Homo sapiens: one gene and its partners. The protein of the gene in region 5 interacts with the protein of the main gene of each other region in a biochemical or structural test. Each region holds a gene or a part of one and is shown on either strand. Other genes may lie near its edges. The genes, in order: ATP8B1, IPO5, TPR, XPO7 and NUP153.

Region 1 (4,654 bases), on a different chromosome or scaffold from region 5:
TATCCAACCAATCTCTAGAACTTTTTCATCTTGCAAAACGGAAACTCTATACCTATTAAACAATAACACCTCACCTCACTCGCCCTCCAGTCCCTGGTAACTTCCAGTTAACTTTCTGTTTGAATGAATTTGAGCACTCTAGATACCTCATATATGTGAAATCAAACAGTATTTGTCTTTCTGTGACTGGTTTATTTCACTTAGCTTAATGTCTTCAAGGTTCATCTATATAATATATGTCATAATTTCCTTCCTTTTTAAAGTTGAATATATTCCATTATGTGGAAGCACCACATTCTGTTTATCCATTCACTCACTGATGGGCACCTGGGTTGCGTCCATCTCTTGGCTGCTGTGAACAGTGTTGCTGTGAACATGGGTGTGCATGTATCTCTTTGAGATCCTGCTTTCAATTATTTTGTGGATATACCCAGAAGTGGGATTGTTGCATCATATGGTAATCCTTTTTGAAATTTTTTGAAACATCACCATACTGTTTTGCATAGTGGCTGCACCATTTTATATATTTCATCAACAACACACAAAGGTTCCTTCAACAATGATTGTTATTTTCTATTGTGTTTTGTTTTTGATAGTAGCCATCCTAAAGGGTGTGAGGTGTTATCTTGCTTTGGTTTTGATTTATCTTCCCCTAATGATTAGTGATGATGAGCCTCCTTTCACATGTTTATCAGCCATTTGCATGTCCTCTTTGGAAAAATGTCTACTCAAAGTGCTTTGCCCATTTTTTTTTTTTTTTTTTTTTTTTGAGGCAGAGTCTCGCTCTGTCACCAGGCTGGAGTGCAGTGGTGTTATCTCAGCTCACTGCAACATCCACCTCCTAGGTTCAAGCTATTCTTCCACCTCAGCCTCCCAAGTAGCTGGGACTACAGACGGGCACCACCATGCCCAGCTAATTTTTGTATTTTTAGTAGAGACAGGGTTTCACCATGTTGGCCAGGATGGTCTCAATCTCTTGACTTCATGATCCACCCGCCTCAGCCCCCCACAGTGCTGGGATTACAGGCATGAGCCACCACGCCTGGCCAGCCCTTTTTTTTTTTTTTTTTTAACTGAGCGACATGTAATTTTACTATGTCTCGATTCATCCACCATGGGGGTACCATGTAATTCATCATTTTTCAAAGACAGTCAAAGGAAGATACAGTTGAAAATGTATACACAGCAACAGAAGAAAGGCAATCTTAGGCCAGGCACTGTGGCTCACACCTGTAATCCCAGCACTTTGGGAGGCTGAGACGGGCAGATCAGTCGAGGTCAGGAGTTCGCAGCCAGACTGGCCAACATAGTGAAACTCTGTCTCTACTAAAAATACAAAAATTACCCAGGCGTGGTGGCGGTGCCTGTAATCCCAGTTACTTGGGAGGCTGAGGCATGAGGATCACTTGAACCCAGGAGGCGGAGGTTGCAATGAGCCAAGATTGCACCACTGCACTCCAGCCTGGGTGACAGAGTCTTTCTAAGAAAAAAAAAAAAAAAAAAAAGGAAAGGCAATCTTGATCTGAATTAGAATACTGGCTATTGTTTGTTAGGAATAAACTTATTTTCATATAAACAAAACTATATCTGTGTTTGAGAAATTCTCAGTGCTTTATATCAACAAATTAAATGTTTGTGTTAAAATGATATATGTGACAAGGCTACGTGTAACACTTTCATGTGATAGAAAAATGAGTCATGAAATTTTGGAGTGGAAGGGACCTTAAATATCTTGTCCAATCTCTTCATGTTACAAATAAGGAAATCAAGCCAGAGGAAGGTGATGTGATTTGCCTGCTGCAGGTTGATAGGAAAACTAGAATGAGGACTCAGTTATCTTGTAACTTCTGGCTCAGGACTCTTACTATTACATACAAAAAGCCATTGTTCTTCTCCTTCCAAAGAAGGCTTCTCAGCCTTTGCACTCTTGATGTCTTGGGCCTAATAATCCTTTATTTTGTGTGGCCATCCCTTGCACTGGAGGATGTTTAGCAACATCCCTGGCCTCTACCCACTAGAAGCCAGGAGCACTTCTCTGCAGCTGAAACAAGCAAGTGTCTCTGGACAGTGCCAAAGGGTCCCTGGAAGGCAAACTCACTCCCCACGGAGAATCACTGCACTAGAGGATTAAGTATCTAGTATCCCTTTTCCACATCAATTTAATTCTCATTTTCAAGTTAAAAGTGAGTGACTAAGACAAATCATTGAAAGGCCGTAAGAGAAAAAAAATGAAGATACCTTCTATTCAAATCATTTTATAGGAATCATCAATTTAAGAGCCACCTGGGAAGATGATTCCTCTCTCTATAAAGGTAAACTCAGCTAAGGGCATGGTCACAACATTTGCTACTTGCATACATTTTATCTTTTACTTTAGCTTCGGGACCAATTTTTAAGACTTTCAAAAGAGAGACCAGAAATTTTTTTACAGCCCCATCTACAAAAAATAAACAAAGCCATATAGTAATTAATCAGATTACTTGAAGCCCAAAACTACTAAAGTAAACTCATTAAGCATTAAGCATTTATTTGTCTGTTGCTACTTTTTTTTTTTGAGACGGAGTCTTGCTCTGTCACCCAGGCAGGAGTGTAGTGGCACTATCTTGGCTCACTGCAACCTCTGCCTCCCAGGTTCAAGCAATTCTCCTGCCTCAGTCTCCCGAGTAGCTGGGATTCCAGGCACATGCCACCATGCCTGGCTAATTTTTGTATTTTTAGTAGAGACGGGGTTTCATCATATCAGTCAGGCTGTTCTCAAAATCCTGACCTCGTGATCCACCCGCCTCGGCCTCCCAATGTGCTGGTATTACAAGCATGAGCCACCGTGCCCAGCCTGTTGCTACTTTTTTAAAACCTAAAAGCACAAAGGGGCATGGCTTATGTACCTCTATTTGGGCACATAAACTAAATCAGTTCTAAATGGAACTGATTTAGATCATAAGGCTACTGATTTTGTCTAATTTGACGGAATACCTAATATACTAGAACAACTAGAAAATGCTTTATCACCATCATTAGAAATAAGACTAATATTGACCATCAATTCCCTCATCACTTTATCACACCTGGCAAATGTGTATGTTAACAGTTTAATCTGACCTCATGCTGGCCTGAGAGAAGCTCTGTAGGGAAAAATCTTGAGGAACTGTCAGGCCATCAGTAAACACATCACAGTAACTGTGTGCAGCATATTTATAGCTTCAGAACAAGACAGGGCTTTTTCATCATACATTTCCAGGTCTGCTGCGACTCTGATTCAAAGCTAACAAACGTTTCAGCATATGCTAACATTTGAATTATCAGGCCTGCCCCACCTAGACTAGATTACAGGGGACCTACATGATGTAACCCACCCACACATTTCCTTCCCGCAAAAGTTTTGGGTTTTTTTTTTCCTTTCTTCTATTTCCCTTTCAAAAGTAAAAGTTCCTAGAAAAAGCAAAATAGGACTATAATTCATATTAATTTGCTAGCGATATTACAGGCTTTTTACGGAATTTTTAGTAGGTGAACCGAGTTTTTTTTTTTTTTTTAATGAGACAGAGTTTCACTCTTGTCACCTAGGCTGGAGTACAGTGGCGTGATCTTGGCTCACTGCAACCTCTGCCTCCTGGGTTCAAGTGATTCTCCTGCCTCAGCCTCCCGAGTAGCTGAGATAACAGGCACCGGGCACCACACCCAGCTAATTTTTGTAGTTTTAGTAGAGACGGGGTTTCACCATGTTGGCCAGGCTGCTCTAGAACTCCTGACTTCAGGTGATCCACCCGCCTCGGCCTCCCAAAGGGCTGGGATTACAGGCATGAGCCACTGCGCCTGGCCTGAGCTGAGAAGGAATGGAGAAAAATGGCCTCTGAAGGGCCCCAAGTTTCCCTAAAAGTAAAATCTGCTCAAATTTAGGCTGCACCTTGATTACTTGGAACTGCCTGTTGTTGTCTTGCCTCATTTAAACATGAGGAAACTGCCCCAAGTGACACATCGTAACCCCTATTTCTTCATATCTGCTATCTTCTACAGACAGTCTTGCATTTGCAAAGATGAGCTATTACGTAATTTCATACTGCAGGCTTTTACTCACTTAATATCCTCCCCATAGCAGATGGTGGTGTCTTCAGTCAGAAGTTCACAAGCAAATCCTATATTTTCAGCAGTTTCTACAATAGAATAAAATTAAGTCAAATGTCATTCCTGCTGTTTTTATTTTATTTTATTTTGTTTTTTGAGACAGCATCTCACTCCCACTGCCTAGGCTGGAGTGCAGTGGCACAATCTCTGCTCACTACAGCCTCAACCTCCAGGATTCAAGTGATCTGCCCATCTCAGCACCACCCGCAGCCCCCAAGTAGCTGGGACTACGCAACTCGCTGCCAAGCCACCAAACAATTTGTGTTTTTTCTAGAGATGGGGTTTTGTCATGTTTGCCAGGCTCATTCTTACTGTTGAACTGAATAATTGATTTTACCTAGTAATGATATTTTTTAGTTCATGAACATAACCAGATTCACACAAACACACTATTTTTCTATAGCAATCTGTAGGAATCACATGCAGAAGAAAAATCCTTTTCTCCATAATAAAACAAGTGAAAGTCAAAGTCTAATTTGAAATGTTTTCAATAATAAAATGTGCTATATTATCAAACATATAAACTGGTTAT
Region 2 (4,654 bases), on a different chromosome or scaffold from region 5:
GAGAAAAGACAACATATGTTGACACAAAAACTTGTACATGAATGTTCATGGCAACATTATTCACCACAGCCAAAAAGTGGAAACAATTCAACTGTCCATCCACTGGTGAATGGATAAACAAAATGTCTTCTAACTATACAAGGAAATATTACTTCGCAATAAAAGAATAAAGTAATGATACATGTAACAACATGAGTGAACCTTAAACTCATTAGACTGCCTGAAGGAAATCAGACAAAAAGACCACACATTTTTTTGGTCCCACTTATGGGAAATGTCCAGAATCAGCACATCCATAGACAGTAGATTGGTGCTTGCCATGTGCCTGGGCATGGGGTGGGTAGGGGAATCAGTGAGTGCTAGCAGGTATGGAGTTTTCTTTTAGGGTGAGGAAAGGGTGATAGTGATGAATGTGCAGCCCACTGAATATACTAAACACTCCATTGTACACTTTAGAAGGTTGAACTTTAGGCTGGGTGAGGTGGCTCATGCCTGTAATCCCAGCACTTTGGGAGGCTCAGGCGAGTGGATCACCTGAGGTCAGGAGTTCGAGACCAGCTTGACCAACATGGTGAAACGCTGTCTCTACTGAAAGTACAAAAGTTAGCTGGGCGTAGTGGTGCGCGACTGTAATCCCAGCTACTCAAGAGGCTGAGGCAGGAGAATTGCTTGAACCCAGGAGGTGGAGGTTGCAGTGAGCCGAGATCATGCCATTGCACTCCAGCCTGGGTGACAAGGGTGAAACTCCATCTCAAAAAAAAAAAAAACCAAATAAATAAAATAAAAAGTAAAATTTGGACTTTATGGTGTATGAATGTCTCAATAAAGCTATTATATTAAAAATACATTTCCTTAGAGAGCTGAAGGATATTGATTTAGACCTCAATTAGTGATTTTTTCCCCCTATCATTCACAGTATTTTTACCTTAGTTCTGAATCCTTGAGTGATAACCATTCATAACCTTCAAACTTCGGAGAATTCCTAAACCAATATTTGTGGAGAGGGAGAATGGGGAGATTCAGATATGATTTGGTCTGTAGACTTTCCTTCCCATCTTTTTGCTACTTACAGCAAGTATCTTACAATTTGGACACATGACATACACATTTCACCTCCTGCATTGTGAGGACATACATAATGGAGTCTGAATTGTGACATCGATCTGCATCTCATAGTTGGAGCTATTGGCAGCATGGATTTTTAGTCATCCACAGTTAATGAGGAACAAATGAAAGGGACCTTATAATGGTTCATAGGCTTCAATTCCATGCATCCTATGTGTAGTACTGCTTGATGCCACATTTAACTGCAGTAGTATTTGTTTAATGAACATTTTCTTCATTCATTTGTTTAGAAAAATATTAGGCACCCCTCTGTGGGAGGTGCTGCTAGGCTGTGGGGATTCCACGGTGAGCATGCGGACAGGGTTCCCACCTTCAGGGAGCTTAGCTCTTTTGAAAGAATTCAGATAATAAACAAGTAAACTGATAAGATACTTGCATACAGTTATAGGTGAAAAAAGAAGATAATGGGATCACGAATGACTGGATTTGGAGTGGGGTCATACCCTAGGGACACAGTCTTTCTTTTCTTTGAGACAGAGTCCCAGTCCGTCACCCCGGCTGGAGTGCAGTGGCGCTATCTAGGCTCACTGCAACCTACGCCTCCCGGGTTCAAGCAATTCTCCTGGCTCAGCCTCCTAAGTAGCTGGGACTATAGGCGCCCGCCACCACACCCGGTTAATTTTTGTTTTTTGTATTTTAGTAGAGACGGGGTTTCACCATGTTGGCCAGGCTGGTCTTGAACTTCTGACTTTGTGACCCACCCGCCTCGGCCTCCCAAAGTGCTGGGATTATAGGCGTGAGCCACCGTGCCCTGCCGGGACAGTCTTTTGAGAGGAGGTGACAATGAAAGATGAGGCAAATAAAGAAATGGAGGAGGCTCTCTCAAGCAGAGGTGACAATACGAAGGACAGAGGCAAAAACAAGTTGGGGTATTCCAGAAAGGAAAGAAGGGGATAGCTAAAGCTGAGAGGGTTGAGAGGCCAGCAGAGGCCAGATCACCCAGGGCACCCTGATAGTTCAGCAGCATGTTCTGCTACTAGGGCATTGTGATGGTTCTGTAGTGTGACTTGTTCTCTCTCTTTTTTTTTTTTTGAGACACAGTCTTGCTGTGTCACCCAGGCTGGAGTGCAGTGGCGTGATCTTAGTTCACTTCAACCTCTGCCTCCTAGGTTCAAGCAATTCTCTTGCCTCAGCCTCCCGAGTAGCTGGGATTACAGGTGCCCGCCACCACGTCTGGCTAATTTTTGTATTTTTAGTAGAGACGAGGTTTCACCATGTTGGCCAGGCTGGTCTTGAACTCCTGACCTCAGGTGATCTACCTGCCTCAGCCTCCCAAAGTGCTGGGGTTACAGGTGTGAGCCACCGTGTCCTGCCTCTTGTAGTGTGACTTGTCCTAGGGGAAAGGGGAATCTAGTGGAGGGTTAAGAAAGAGATCTGACCTGAGAAGCTTTCAACTTTCAAAGATCATCTTGGCTGCAGTGTGGGGTGGGGTGGGATGGGGCTTGGACTGAGGTGGTAGCAATCAACAGTGTTCACTGTTGTGTGGTCGGTTTTAGATGGTTTTCTTTTCTCTTTCTTTCTTTTTTTTTTTTGAGATAGTTTTCTTTTGGAAATGAGCTGGACAGAGGGTGCAGAGGCCGATCCAAGGTTTGTGAGGCCTAAATCATACAGTTTGAGGGCCTTCCATAAGAAAAATAAAAACTAAACACAAAATGAGATAGAGGACCCTGCAATGGGGTAACACAAAATGAGATAGAGGGTCCTGAGCAAAGGAGAGTCCCTGACACTTAAGCTTCTGGAATTTCTTGATGAGTCCTCTCCCGATGGTGGGGGTGAGGTCGGGAGAGATCAAGAATGCCCAGGTTTTGTGACTGAGCAACTGATGATGCTATTAAGATGAGAAGGAGGTGTTTGGGGTAAGGTCTGGAGAGAAGAGCTGGGTTTCCTTCGTGGCACTTTTGTGGGACACAGGAAACAGCCACGTGGCTGAGGATAGAGGGACAATGGAGCCCAGGAAGAGGGCAGGGCTGGAAATGGCAAGCCATCACTTTCATGGCATTTAAAGTTGTGGAAGTGGATGACATCAGGTTGGGAAGAGAGAAGAGAGCCAAGCAATCAGCTGCAAGACAACTCCACCTGAGGCCAGGCCCTGGAGGTTTCTAGTTTATATATAGTCCAAATATAATAGTATATTTAACATTAGTCACTTTAAGTTGTAATTCTCTTTTTCTTTCTGATTGCAAGGGTTTCTTTCTTTACTTTTTTTTCTGAGACAGAGTCTCATTCTGTCTCACTCTGTCACCCAGGCTGGAGTGCAGTGGTGCGATCTCGGCTCACTGCAATCTCCACCTCATGGGTTCAAGCGATTCTGCTGTCTCGGCCTCTAGAGTAGCTGGGATTACAGAAGACAGGGTTTCTTTAACATTTAAGGAATCCACTGATCTACTTCTGAAATCTTCAGAGATAAAAAAGAGAAGGAATCCACTAATGCATGTAAGGATAGTGGGCTGAACAAGTAGGCCCTAATGATCAGAACAAGTCAATTAAAAAAATTATTTGATCAAAGAATTGTTTATTTTTATTGTTTTTATTTTTATTTTTTCTTATACTTCAGGAGTAGTAGGATTTACTTTGTGCCAAGGAAATAACTAGTTTTCTCTAAATTGTCTTCAAGCATTTAGGCCTCCTACCAACTAATATAATTCTCTACCTCTCACTTAGAAACATTGTTTAACAATATGGAATGATCATTTAAAGAACTTAGATCAGGCTGAGTGCGGTGGCTCATGCCTGTAATCCCAGGACTTTGGGAGGTAGGTGGATCACCTGAGGTCGGAGTTCGAGACCAGCCTGGCCAACATGGTGAAACCTTGTCTCTACAAAAAATACAAAAAAAAAATTAGCCAGGTATGGTGGCGCAGGCCTGTAGTCCCAGCTACTCAGGAGGCTGAGGTGGGAGAATCGCTTGAACCTGGGAGGTGGAGGCTGCAGTGAGCTGAGATCACGCCACTGCACTCCAGCCTGGGCAACAAAATGAGACTCAGTCTCAAAAAATAGAAAAAAAAAAAGATGTTAGATCAAACTAATATTAAGAGGTCAAAAGACCATCTTCCTCCCATCTTAATCTAAGGATTTTTCTAGTTTTGTTTATACACTTAAGTTTTCATTTGAGTATTCAGAGAGATAATAAACCCTACCCTTTTAAAGAATGTGGGAGGGAGTGGGAAAAGTAGGAATGCGTTTTAAGGTCTATCTGCCATGTAAAATCAGCGATATTGGACCCATGTGATAAGAATGCTTGTTTTACATGGCTTCAGCTATCCATAGACCAAGCATTTTCTCTTGAAACATAGCTACATTTAGAAAATCTTAATACAGCTTAAAATAGGAATTTTGGTATTTGGTCCCGGACACTACCACCAGAAAGGGATCCCATTATGTTATGATGCTATTATTCAAGCTGGTTGGACTCAGTTTGCAGAGACTCCTATTTTACAAATCACTTGGCTTGTGTGAATTGACTATTTAGTGGCTGTGAGATTGAGGATAAGGGCTAAATCTTTTCTAACAAGAGGACTATTTAAAAACC
Region 3 (4,654 bases), on a different chromosome or scaffold from region 5:
GTCACCTTTCACACAGATTTGGCACTTGGTAGACAAATACATTGTAGGTAAAGGTAATGTATTATGCATTTTTATATTCCCTATGTAATTGATATGGTAGCATGCAATAAAATGTTGCCTGAATTAAATAAATATCTGTAACTGATTTTGCATCTATTCATTTAAATTACTGTTGAATAAAATTAATGAAATTAAGCTCAAAGTAAAATTAGAATTTTTCATTAAGCATCATTTAGTTTTTAATTGATATAACAGATAGTAAATTTGATTAGTAATATATTTAGTTTATTGGATGTAGCTGAAATAAAACATTCTCTACTTTCACAGCACAGAAATACTTGAATAATTTACTGAATTCTAACATTTGTCAAGATAAGAATCTAAGGAAATATGCAGGTAGCAAAGTTTTACTGAACACCTACTGTGGAGTTAGGTAAAGGGATTAAACAATAAGAAGCTGAGATTTTTGCCCTTGAGGAGCTCAATGTAGTGGAGTAAAAAGCATGTATACCACAGAATAAAATACAAAGTTGTAATTGCTGTAATGAATAACAAGAGTGTCATGGGAAAAAATTGAAGAAAGCAATGAAATGGTCAGTTTCAGTGAGAAAGCAATGTTGGATTGAGCCAGTAATTCAGTATGATTTTCCAAAGTGGATTTCATATATTCTTTGTCATTACAAGTGAAAATTTTGGTCCTAGAAGTATGTCCTTCAAATATTAAACACCCATTTTTACAATGACGTGACTTCAGCTGTAGTGGATGCTTCATTTGTCTTTGAAATTACTGTCATCTTCTCATAATAAATCTAAATAAGCAGTCTCATCAGATCTGTATTATTTTACTAACCTTCCTGTGATTCCACTTGTGTAGTGGGCATCACTGTAGCTGTTGGGGTAGTAGTGGGATTTGTAACAGTTGCAGGTGTAACCATTGGGCGGATACTAGCCCTGGGTGTTGACTTATTTCCAGCCATAGCTGCAGCTGTCACTTTACTTGGAGTAGACACAACAGGAGTTGGCTTGATATTGGCTGTTGGTGGGTCTGATGTGCTGGCACTTATAGAGGAGAAAATGGAAGAATAATTAATAACAAATTATTATGCAAATACTTTTAAAAACACAGTGAGTATAGGTCTCCATTTTTTTGTTCACTAAATATTTCAGAGCCTTATTAAAGCTGTTTTGAATTTAAGCATTAAAAACTACACAGGGAATGCTCCAGAGTGGTGCATCCTGACAATGTAAAATGTATCTAGCTGTTGAATTGCTGAACCCAAGTCTCAGCCCAGCATTTTCTATCTGTCATCATGTAACATCACGGGGAAAATCAGTAGCAGCCTAACTTAGAAACCAACTGTAAACTAAAAGATGAGAGACGTTTTCTCTGTCACAAAGCTTCATCTGATAGGACTGAAAGTATGGTGAAAACAAGCTGGCAAATACATGATACAGTTCTGCAGAGAAAACAACTCTTTAGTGTATGTTTTTACAATAGAATACACAGATTTCTTTTTCCTAAACAGAAAGATCACTAGATATTCCCTGAGCTTTAAAAGAAAAATAACAGACTATGAAATAACTAAAACTCACATTCCTCTTTCACCAGAAGCTGGAGTTGTTTTCAATGTGATCTGTCTCTGCTGTTCAGGGACCTATAAAGAGAAAGCTCTTGATTGTTGTTCCTAGCCCACAAGAGTCCACTAAAAATGCCACAAAAAAATTGTCATTATTGTTAATTCTCTCCGCATATATTGAATTTTAGCCAAAATTCACTGACAAAGGCTCCTATATCACCAAGCACTTTCAAGTAAAATGTACAAAGAAAAACAATTTGTTACTTAAGCAGAATTAGCTAATCACCTTATTAGAAGGTTCTTGAGGCTCATCTCTCTGCTCAAGGTGTCTCTCTTGATGCTCCCTGAGTTCTCTTTCCAAGCGACTAATTCGACCTTCATATTGGGACTTTAGCGCAGTAATGCGAACATCCAATTCATCTTTCTGCTGATCTAAGGCTCCATTCCTTTGTTTAAGCTCCTCATTTTCTTTAGTTAGCTGATCTTTTACACCTAAAGAAGTAACCAGGCGATTATATTAATATTATAATCAAACATTTAAAACAGCATTTATGCACTTAATTGGCACATGGTCACATCAGATTCTACTACTATAACATCTACATTAGTTATGATACATCATACATCTCAATGAGCAAAGTTCTAAGTACATTCATGCTTTAACTTATTACTAGAATATAAAATATACTTACTCCAACATAAAAATTTACTTTTTCCTAACTAAAATCTCAAAAAGCTAAAGATCCTAGTTAACAGAAGCCCGTTTATATTTCAATGTATCATGCAATTCATTACTATGAATTGCAAAATTTTTATTTCATATAATCTACAGCACTGTTTAAAAATAATTCAAGAACTTTTAAAATCAAGTAAGTTGTTAGGACACTGTCTTAGAGATCATTTTAAAAAAATGCCTGTAACAAAATCCAACTGATTTGACATTTTATTTAACTACTCAGCAGACTGATAGGCAAGGCTGAATAAAGCCCTGAGCCTTGAAGAACTAGGTTCTTCATAAATTTGACATGATACTCTCCCTGAAAAGCTAGAGGGGTCCTCCACCAAACGAGGCACAAAAAAATCCCTGGGCTGGTAAAGATCTTTATGCAGTCTACATAAGGTTTCTAGACAGCACGGTCTGGGCTCAAAGGATCTCTGTCACAAGATAGAATTGTTATCCATGAAAGCAGAAGGATAGCAGTATTCCATTATCTACTGCCAGCCAACAATTGAGAAAAATTTCATCATATCAAGGATATCCTCATCACTTGAAAATTAGGATTGCTCTTTGTGTCCAACTAATTATTCCTAATATTTAAAGCACACATACACACACAAACACCCTTCATAAGTAGATACCTTTTATTTCTATTCCATTTAGTTTTAGGCCTGCAACACATAATCAACTTTCACTACCAAGTTCAAACTTTAAACAGATATTTACCAGCTAAGTGTGCAATTTTTGACTTTGCTGCTACAATAGCCTTTCTGGTTTTTTCTTCCTTTTCAGTTATCTGTTGTCGGAGCTGCTCCTCCTGTGTGGTTCTATCTTGAAGATCCTGACGAAGTCGTGAAAGTTCAGACTGAAGTTGCACAGTCTGTTCCTGGAGATTTCTTGCTTCTGTCTCTTTTTCAGATAATGTCTTTAAAGGAAAACAAAGTATTCACCATGGAATTCAATCATTTCAATATAAACTGTATGTGGTAGCAACTTAAAGTATAACTTATTAATTTGCTTTTTAAAAGATTAAATGGAAGTATAAGTATAAAAATGGTGGTCAGACCAACTAAATGCACACTTGAAGATGATTGGGTACTACTTACATACATGAGCCATTCAAAGTAAAAAGAATAAAATGTATCCATTCCCACATGGTAAGACAAAGTGTCAGTAGTTAACACATATTTCTTTAGGTGTATAACAGGAAAGAATTAGGAACAGACTGTTCTCACACTCATACCTTCTGCAGATTCTCTACTTGACTTTCAAGTGATTTTGATTTTGTTTCAGCTTGGTTGAGCGTTTCTTTGAGTTCCTGCATTTCCTGGACTGAAACATGCTGCTCCTGATGGTCTCCAGAGGACTGAGCCGATGTCTCCATAACCTAAGACAACAAACAGTAATAATACACTCACATATTTATATTCAGTAATTCCATTTCTGCAAGTTTGTCTAAGAAAATAATCACAGCTTTGCAAAGAAATTTTATCCCTGAAGGTATTCAAAACAGAATTTTCTATGAAACAACTGTAATCTCCAAAAATGGGGAACTAGTTATGGTTTTCCACATAACTGAATACTAAACAGCTAATCAAAATGATGCATTATAGTTGAATTTTCAACACTTAACTGTATTTTCATGATAATGAATCAAGTGAAAAAAGTATACAAAAGAATATAAGCATATAATATTATTTCTTTGGAAAAACGTCGCTTACATGTATGAAAAGGGATACTAATGTACTAATAGTGGCTAAAACAAAGGGGTATTAATTGTGAATTTTTTTTCTTTATATTTATTTTCTAATCCAACATGAAATAAATACATAATTCTCAACATACAAATTCCTTACCTTCAGGAATTAAAAACAATATTTAGATTCAAAATATAAATATAACAAAGATTTCTGAATTTTTTTGATAGGTGGTTAACATAAACAATTTATTTAAAACTATACAAAACCAGATTAGTCATCATTTTTTAATATACACAATTCTAATTAGCAATGAGTTATAAGAACATAGCTTTGAAAATGGAGAGTATTTGAAAGGTGAAGACTGAACTATCTAGTATTTACCAAAATTTGTGAGTTTATAATGCATTTTCAGACATATTAAAGAACTAATCTTAAATAAAGATATCATATATGCTTACACGATTTCGGTATCTAAAAGCTAGTAATATTCAAAATTACAAAGAAATAAGATTTCATAACATTCATCCTAGTTTTTTTTTGTAAGATAAGTTTCTTCAAAATACCTTATCCTGTTGTGCTTTAAGTTCTTCATATTGAGTCTTGTACCTACGTCCAATTTTCTTAACTTGAGTAATAGTTTTGACTTTTTCTTGGATATC
Region 4 (4,654 bases), on a different chromosome or scaffold from region 5:
TCCGGTGGCTGGCTGTTCACAATACTGTTTCTTAGGTCAGAAAAATACTGTGGGGCAAGGAGTGGAACAGAAGGTTAGAGAAGCAGGGGAAGGCAGATTAGCCCTCCGTCATCTGCAGGGTTGAAGAATGTTCTTCTCTAAGGAGGAATGGAATGTCTACTAAAATTGGACCCTTAAAAAAGAAATTCAGGCAAGCACTTGTGGGATAATATGGCTTCATCCTACTAAGAATATCAAGAATTTTTAAATTGTAAAGCACTTTAAAAGGGTCATCTTATCCAGACCTTTCTTTTACCAGAATCTCAAGACTTGTTTATAGCAGAGCTAGAACTAGAACTTAGGTCTTAGGTCCTCTGATACCCAGGTACATTATTTCCTTGAAAGGTTTCTCTTACTGCCTAGGGGAAACACTCCTTTATCCTGTGTCTGTGAGCTACCACACATGCTGACTTCTAACAGTTAAATGATTATGTGATACTGAAAGCACAAATGGGACTTGCTCAGTAAATGACCCATTTTCCCTGTTTCACCACCGTGGGGTGTTTCTATACACATTTCTCCCAGGGCTTGGTGATACCAAGTGCGTGGTTGCCACTGCTTCTGGGTTGGCACCAGGGAGCTGGCTCTCTCACCTTTTCATTAAGCAATATCAAGCCAAGTAGTGGTCGGGACATAGACCACTGGTTCCTACAGTCTTCAAAGATGATGATGTTCAGCACCGTGGACAGCATCTGAAAATGGAATGGAGAATTTCAGGCAGTGACCTAATGTATTGCTACCCAAGATAAAACGACAGATTCCAAATACAGGAGTATATTAGGCTGAAGGCCTTTTCTGTATAGGGTAAATCAGACAAATAGTTTGTGAAGCTTCATCTGAGTCTTCTATTTCAAGGTTACCTTTTCTTCTAAGATATTCATTTCCTTTCTTGTTCTTAAAATTGGTTTGAACTTCACTTACCAATGGATCTTTCCAGGTCACCCTGAGTTGTGGGGAATGGGATGGGGTCACGTAAACAAAATTACAGTAAGCAAAACCACCTTGCATGATCCCTTCCAGGTACTCGGAGTTGACAGCTTTATGACATCTTGTGAATGTAATGGAGTCCTGAATTATTTCACTGCTTCTTTAGAGAACGGTGTGGACAAAGGTAAGACTGGCTAAAATCTCAATAATTACTGATCCCATTTCCTTATCTATTTTCATCTAGCATGTATTTCTGTAAGTTACTTCAAGGCACATACAAATAAAATAAGGGCAAGCATATGGTTTGATCTCTCTGTGGCCAGTTATTTCCTTCTGTCTTGCATTCTTCTTCCTGTTTTGTAAACAGGAACACAAGCCTTTAGAAAGCTGGATGCTGCTAACTCCTGCTCTATTTATAGCAGTGGGTGAGCAAAGTAATTTTCACAGAAAGAGGATAGTGATCATGAGACAGGTCCAGGGCATAGGGATCACTGTGACACTCAGAAGAATAATCCAGAACCTGAGCGTTTTCTACATCCAGTGATTACTTGGCAAACTCAAAATCCACTGCAACTTTAAGACACGGACTTCATCTCAGCAGCAGGAACCTGATGAGATGTCATGTTAATCGTGTGTGGGCTCCCCTGTCTTGCAGAGGTCCTTCCTCTGTCGGACACCCCATCACTGCCTCCTAAGCCTCCACTTTCTTACCTGCTGGATCATCTCTGGATGCTGCTGCATGATGTGCAGAAAGCGGTCGCTCTCCTGGTTCAGGGGTGTGGTCCTCTTCTTGGTGCTACGTGACAGCTGCTTGAAGAGGTATGTCACAATGTGGTCCAGGCAGGAGCAGCAGCCTGTGCATACCATGGTGTCTGCAAGAAAGAAAGGCAGGGGTAGGACAGAGCTGCTGATGGTGGCCTGGACAAATATGGACTATCTTTGGGTGAGATCCATTAGGGTACCGTGGCCAATTCAACCAAGGCGGTTGCTCAAGATGACTCCTGTTAACCTCTTAACCTCATTGTACAGTAGGGCTCAATTTCTAAGTTTGAAAGTGAGTATGTGGTAATAAAGAATACTGAAATTATCGGCTCAATGTGTTGTGGATGTACGTACATCTTCTGCCTCACACAAAATAACAAATAGTTTGATTCAGCAAGTGCTTCTTTTGTGCCAGATGTTGTGCTAAGTACTTTATAGGTGTTATCTCTAATTTATCCTCTCAAGAACTCAGGAATTAGGTTTTCTGTTTTACAAATGAGGAAACCAGAATTAGGAGAGGTTATGTATCGGCCTAAGGATCAACTGCTAGTAATTGCAGGAGCTGTGATTAGAATCCAAGAAGCCTGGGGTATGAGCCTATGCTCTGAGTTACCAGTGGGATGTAATTAAACCCAGAATGACGTAGCCCCTGAATGTTTATGGTTTGTTAGAACACGGTATGCTGTATTATCTGTTTATCTCCAAAGCATCTCTGGGGGGAGCTGCAGACTCATCTATGCGTCTTTACAAAGGGAACAGTACAGCACAACCTGTGGACAGAACTCTGATGAGGTAAGGCCAAAGGACAAAGGGGCTGAACCCTTAAAAGAGTAAACAAGTCTCTGATTCCTACGGGACTGATAGTTTATGCAAACGTCCCTCTACTTGCTTTTTCTTTCTTTTTTTTTTTTTTGATACGGAGTCTCGTTCTGTCGCCCGGGCTGGAGTGCAGAAGTGGCACGATCTCGGCTCACCACAGCTTCTACTTCCCGGGTTCAAGTGATTCTTCTGCCTCAGCCTCCAGAGTAGCTGGGACTACAGGCACACACCACCACGCCGAGCTAATTTTTGTACAGAGACAGGGTTTTGCCATATTGGCCAGGCTGGTCTCGAGCTCCTGACCTTGTGATCTGCCCGCCTCAGCCTCCCAAAGTGCTGGGATGAGCCACCACGCCCGGCCAGGTCCCTGTATTTTCAATAAGACATAAAAAAGTCTTCCAAAGCAAGGGCTGATACCTTGATTGGACTGTACTAGATACGGCTATGCACCCTGATAGACTGATAGAAGTAAATGTGTATCAAAGTCGCACAGAGGCATGGATAATTCACCACAGTTGACAATCCAAAAGTGTATTTGCAACATATCATCACTATTTGGCAGTTGACTTAATCCTCCTACTTATGTTTTGCTCAGCCTAATATAAAAATGTGTTTTATTCTCTGAACACATATACCTACTAAGATTGTTGGGCCAGGCACGGTGGCTCATGCCTGTAATCCCAGTATTTTGGGAGGCCAAGCCAGGCGGATCATGAGGTCAGGAGATTGAGACTATCCTGGCTAACACAGTGAAACTCCGTCTCTACTAAAAATACAAAAAAATTAGCCAGGCATGGTGGCGGGCGCCTATAGTCCCAGCTACTTGGGAGGCTGAGGCAGAAGAATGGCATGAACCCGGGAGGCAGAGGTTGCAGTGAGCTGAGATCGCGCCACTGCACTCCAGCCTGGGCGACAGAGCGACTCCGTCTCAAAAAAAAAAAAAAAAAAATTGTTGGAAGGTAGCCTAGAAACAAAATGGTTGACAGAAACCATATGGACTAGGATGAAAAAACTTATGGAGCTAGCTGCATGAAACCTTTCCCCAGCTTCCACGGCCCTCAGGACAGAATTCAAACAGCCTAATACGGCTTACAGGCGGGCCCCCTTCATGATCTCCAGATTTGCTCCTGCTTATCTCTAAAGCTTCATTTCATTCCTAACTCCTCTGGACTAGTGTGCCAGCCATCTGGATTTCCTGGTTCTTTCTTGCCTACAGGTGCAAGTGCTTGCTGTCTCTGCTGCTAGGAACCCTCCCTGGCTAACCAGGGTAACATCTGTCCAGCTTTTAGGTTTATGCTTTGATGCCAAGTCTTCCAGCCAGTCTTCCTTGATCCTGACTTCCTCACAACCAAGAGTCTAGGTATTCTTGAGGGCTTGTGTAGCACTTTGTACTCACCCCTATTGTAATGTTTAAGTGGTAAGTATGGTAAACAGGCAGTTGTTTGTTCATGTGTCTGTTCTACCCACCAGATAAGCCCCTTAAGGACAGGGACTATATGCTGTTAATTACCGTATCCTCAGTGCTTCCACAGGGCCTTGTACTTAGGAAGGGAATCAGTGAGTGTGTGCTGGATAAGCATGTGCTGTGCATTATATACTCTATTGTTATGGCCAAACCCCCAAGGCAGTGGTGATCTTTTTGGACACTGGGGCAAGATTCTCTCTTTCTGTTTAGTTAAGTGGTAAAAAACAAACCCACCAACTCACCCACCCACCTCAGGTGCTTACCAAGTGCAGTAAGTCCTTCAGAAATGGAAGAGAGAATATACATGATGACGTGAGGTTCCAGGCTTGCAATAAAGTTCATATGGTCCTGGGTCAGGACTTCCAGTAGTGAATAATAAGACTGGCTGAGCTTGGGGTAATCCTGTGGGAGAGGAAGAGGAAGAAAATCAGCTTAGGCACTATGCACTCCAGCATGCAGGGAGACGATCTTAAATAGCTTAGCTCCTTTTAGGTGGGAAAACAGAAGACTTAGTTAGAGCAAAAGGAGCTAGCTTACATAGTTTCTCAAGAGCAGTGTTCAATCTTGGTCTCAGGTGAAAAAGGCTGAATGTGATGAGGAACAAGATTGTGGCAATGCAGCGTAAGGCTTACCAAGAGATCA
Region 5 (3,849 bases):
GATAGGGGCCTAGAGAATGGCTAAGAACCTTCAAAGTAAGAATTAACTTCTCAGCAGTAAGACACAAATTCCCAGTTACCTCTTCCAGTATTCATCACATTTTGCCCCCTCAACAGGTGTCAAATGTATACTGCTAATAAAGCAAAATTTCTACCCCCAACCAGCATTTGATGATGGACTAAAATATCTCAAGTAAGAAAAATACCTTGAGTTCTAAATTTAAACTGCAACCAGGCCAGGCGCGGTGGCTCACGCCTGTAATCCCAGCACTTTGGGAGGCTGAGGCGGGTGGATCACAAGGTCAAGAGTTCCAGACCAGCCTGGCCAACATGGTGAAACCGTGTCTCTACTAAAAATACACACAAAAAATTAGCCGGGCATGGTGGCGGGCGCCTGTAATCACAGCTACTTAGGAGGCTGAGGCAGGAGAATTGCTTGAACCCAGGAGGCAGAGGTTGCAGTGAGCTGAGACCGCACCACTGCACTCCAGCCTGGGCGACAGAGCAAGACTCCGTCTTGGAAAAACATAAACTCCAACCAACCAGAAGTTCAGTAAATTAAAACTGAGCACAATTTAAATAACTGTACATTTCCAACTGAAAAATAAAATTACCAAATATTGTTCCAAGAGCTCTTTTATGGACCATGGGAATCCAGTTTAAAAAAAAAAAAAAGAATGCAGTAAAATAATACAAAAGAAAGTGCAGCTGACCCTTGAACAACCCGGGTTTGAACCGTGGGCCCACTTATCACGGGTTTTTTTTTTTTTTTTAACTCAACCAAAAACAGATCAAAAACACAGTATTCGTGGGATATAAAACCTGCACATTCGGAGGGCTGGCTTTTGGTATACTCAGGTTCTGCAGGGTCCACTGCTGAAATTTGTGGATTGTGGTTTGGGGGCGGGAGAACTGGGGGGGGGGGGGAGTGCAGTTCTGGGAACAATCTCCTGCACACACCAAGAGACAACTGTAGTTTTTGTGTATGTATTTCCAAGAACTTTAATAAACACTATCCAGTAACTTACCAAGGAAGATAGAAGCACAAAGAGAAATGAATGTGTGTATTTTCAACTTTTAAAAAAGGTACCTAAGTCGATATGCAAATTAGGCATGATTCCTAGCACCAGGCAAGAAGTAGGGTACCTTCTATATGTTGTGCATTCAGATACTTTCAGATACTTTCCCTTTCTCTTAGGAGTTGTCTAAATCATGTCAATGTATTCTTCTAATGAGACACTGTTAATCTTTATTTTACAAAGTCCCCCCAATAATACTGTGTGCCTTCATTATGAGGTAAAACTAGAACAAAAAGTATGTCATAATTTTTTATTGATGGCATTTATCCCATGGTTTAACATGTTAATTATACTGTAATAAACATGGCTTTAATATTAAACTTTTCCTTATTATCCAAAGTCACCACAGTCCATTTTAGTAAATATAAAAATATATGCTTAATACTTTGTACAATACTGGTTTTTGGTCCAAACAAAACTGGATCAGAAAAGCCAATAAATTCAACTTTAAGAATCCCCAATTTTTTTTTTAAAGATTTCCAAATGGATTTAGGCAACTTTGAATAATGGGATTTACATAATAAAATCTGAGACAAGACTAAACAAACAACAAAAAAATCTCTAACACAAAATTCAAATTTCAAGTTCACAGATTTATGTTATGCCAAAAAGTACAGAAACAAAATTGTATTTACACAAGTTTCATAATAAAATAATGAAAAAGGCAAGACAGGTGATAGGAGAATGAAAATATAGAAATAGCATATAATTATTAAATGGAGAGTGAACTAGATCTAACAAGTCCTTAGCACGGACCATTCTTTAATCAGGCTTCCTCTATCAGAAAAGTTTAGCGCACAATACACCCAACTCACTCACTTCACACATACACCAGCACAAACTCAGCATAGAAATCATCCGTTTCAACACTCTCTAATCTATACAGAATTCTAATCTATACAGAATTCCTCAGATATAATTACAATTTCAACGCGTTCCATGAACGCTTATCAGCGCACATAATGGTGTAGACAAAGAGGTTCTATACAAAGCCATTCACCGTGCAGGCTCCATTCCTGGGTACAGCCAGACTATGTCAAATCAGTGAATAATCTGCTGGATCATAAAATATTTTTGCTGAAGAATCAGTCACCAGTCTAGCTATTTATTTATTTAAAAAAGGGTGGGTGAGGCAGGGTGGGGCTTCTGTAACGAAAGAGAAAGGAGGAAAATTCCAAAATTAAAGAAGTCCTTAGGCAGATCTGACTTCAGATAACCCCAGCACAAAGTACAATCCAGTATCTGAAAGCAGGGCACCAGCTGTTGTTAAAATTGAGTACAACACCAATGTGACCTTTATTTCCTGCGTCTAACAGCAGTCTTTATCTTGCGACCAGAGAATGAAGTTCCAGAAGAAGAGAACACATTTTTCCCATTTGACCTGTGAAAAATAAAAACTTCATAATGTGACATGATGCTCTGAGCAAAATTTCCAAATGCTAACATTTACCATGAGCAGCACAAGGGTAAGGGGGGTCGGGTGGGGGGGGAGTAGACTCACATTGGTATATACATTTTCTGCTACACCTAACACACACGCTACTGTTATTTTTTTCTCAAACTGTAATATAATCCTCCAGAATTATAGTATGGTAAATTTATGTTGGAGAACATATTTAATTTTACCCAAACCATACGGAATCTTGATGACTTTTAAAAACAAAACATATACATGCACATACCCTTACCAATGTAACTTCTCCATTTCAATAAAAAATTCTCTTACCCCACTGTAAATGCTGCTGGAGACTGGTTAAATGGAAAGCCCCCCGAGCCTGAAGGCTGGGCTGAGGCTGCAGGTGTGCTAGAATTTGCACCAAATGTGAACACTCCTGATGGACTGTTGTTTGTGAAGTTGAAATTTGTAGTGCTGCTGCCAAACTGGAAAGCCGAACCTGCAATAGTTAAAGCAGAAATACTTCATTAGGGCAAAATGATAGGTTTTTTTGTTTGTTTGTTTGTTTTTTGAGACGGAGTCTCGCTCTCTTGCCCAGGCTGGAGTACAGTGGCACAATCTTGGCTCACTGCAACCCTTGCCTCCTGGGTTCAAGTGATTCCCCTGCCTCAGCCTCCCCAGTAGCTGGGACTATATAGGTGCGTGCCACCATGCCTGGCTAATTTTTTGTATTTTAGTAGAGACGTGGTTTCACCATGTTGGCCAGGATGGTCTCGATCTCCTGACCTTGTGATCTGTCCACCTCGGCCTCCCAAAGTGCTGGATTACAGGCGTAAGCCACTGCACCCGGCCGCAACATGATAGGTTTTTAAATTAAAGACTCTGACCTTTACATATAAAAACATGCAAAGAATTAAAATATTCTGGTCTTTTAATCTAAAGAAAACTATTTTCTCCACTGACACATAGTACATACTTGACACCTCCAACAAATCACACAACTTACCTATGACCAAGGGGAAAAGGGCACCCTGGACTTATGGTTAAAGACAGTGAAATCAACAAATACACTTAGCTCTATCTTCTTTGAAAAGTGCATTAAAACAACAAGGGATTTTTACAAAGATATAGGTTTAGAAGCTGGAAGGCTGACTAGAGTTGATACTAAACGAGCAGTAGGGAAAGAACAGAAGCAATTGCATTTACACCAAACATACCCAAAATGTTTAGGTTCCAGATACCTATGGAAGTGAGGATGTAGTGGGAATTAAAAAAAAAAAAAAAAAAAAAGGATGGCAGAGTATGTTTAGAAGCAGATACCCAGAATCAATCCCTCCCAACACCAACACAAAGATGGTAATTATCAGTGGGTGCA

The links.
Region 1: the proteins of NUP153 (region 5) and ATP8B1 interact in a surface display test, tested with the Homo sapiens proteins (one large-scale study listed by IntAct).
Region 2: the proteins of NUP153 (region 5) and IPO5 form a complex in vitro, tested with the Homo sapiens proteins (one study listed by BioGRID).
Region 3: the proteins of NUP153 (region 5) and TPR form a complex in vitro, tested with the Homo sapiens proteins (one study listed by BioGRID).
Region 4: the proteins of NUP153 (region 5) and XPO7 form a complex in vitro, tested with the Homo sapiens proteins (one study listed by BioGRID).

Annotation. Positions count from the first base shown.
Region 1 is NC_000018.10:57,663,017-57,667,670, forward strand, and holds part of ATP8B1 (phospholipid-transporting ATPase IC), read right to left. Parts: intron 4,152-4,654; coding exon 4,076-4,151; intron 1-4,075. UniProt on the Homo sapiens protein: Catalytic component of a P4-ATPase flippase complex which catalyzes the hydrolysis of ATP coupled to the transport of phospholipids, in particular phosphatidylcholines (PC), from the outer to the inner leaflet of the plasma membrane.
Region 2 is NC_000013.11:97,956,675-97,961,328, reverse strand, and holds part of IPO5 (importin-5), read right to left. Parts: intron 983-4,654; exon of another isoform or gene 926-982; intron 1-925. UniProt on the Homo sapiens protein: Functions in nuclear protein import as nuclear transport receptor. Serves as receptor for nuclear localization signals (NLS) in cargo substrates.
Region 3 is NC_000001.11:186,333,475-186,338,128, forward strand, and holds part of TPR (nucleoprotein TPR), read right to left. Parts: coding exon 4,559-4,654; intron 3,683-4,558; coding exon 3,539-3,682; intron 3,221-3,538; coding exon 3,022-3,220; intron 2,070-3,021; coding exon 1,864-2,069; intron 1,656-1,863; coding exon 1,594-1,655; intron 1,060-1,593; coding exon 851-1,059; intron 1-850.
Region 4 is NC_000008.11:21,999,296-22,003,949, reverse strand, and holds part of XPO7 (exportin-7), read right to left. Parts: coding exon 4,645-4,654; intron 4,415-4,644; coding exon 4,276-4,414; intron 1,839-4,275; coding exon 1,678-1,838; intron 732-1,677; coding exon 633-731; intron 48-632; coding exon 1-47.
Region 5 is NC_000006.12:17,613,723-17,617,571, forward strand, and holds the end of NUP153 (nuclear pore complex protein Nup153), read right to left. Parts: intron 2,974-3,849; coding exon 2,805-2,973; intron 2,460-2,804; coding exon 2,375-2,459; 3' UTR 1,315-2,374; downstream 1-1,314. UniProt on the Homo sapiens protein: Component of the nuclear pore complex (NPC), a complex required for the trafficking across the nuclear envelope. Functions as a scaffolding element in the nuclear phase of the NPC essential for normal nucleocytoplasmic transport of proteins and mRNAs.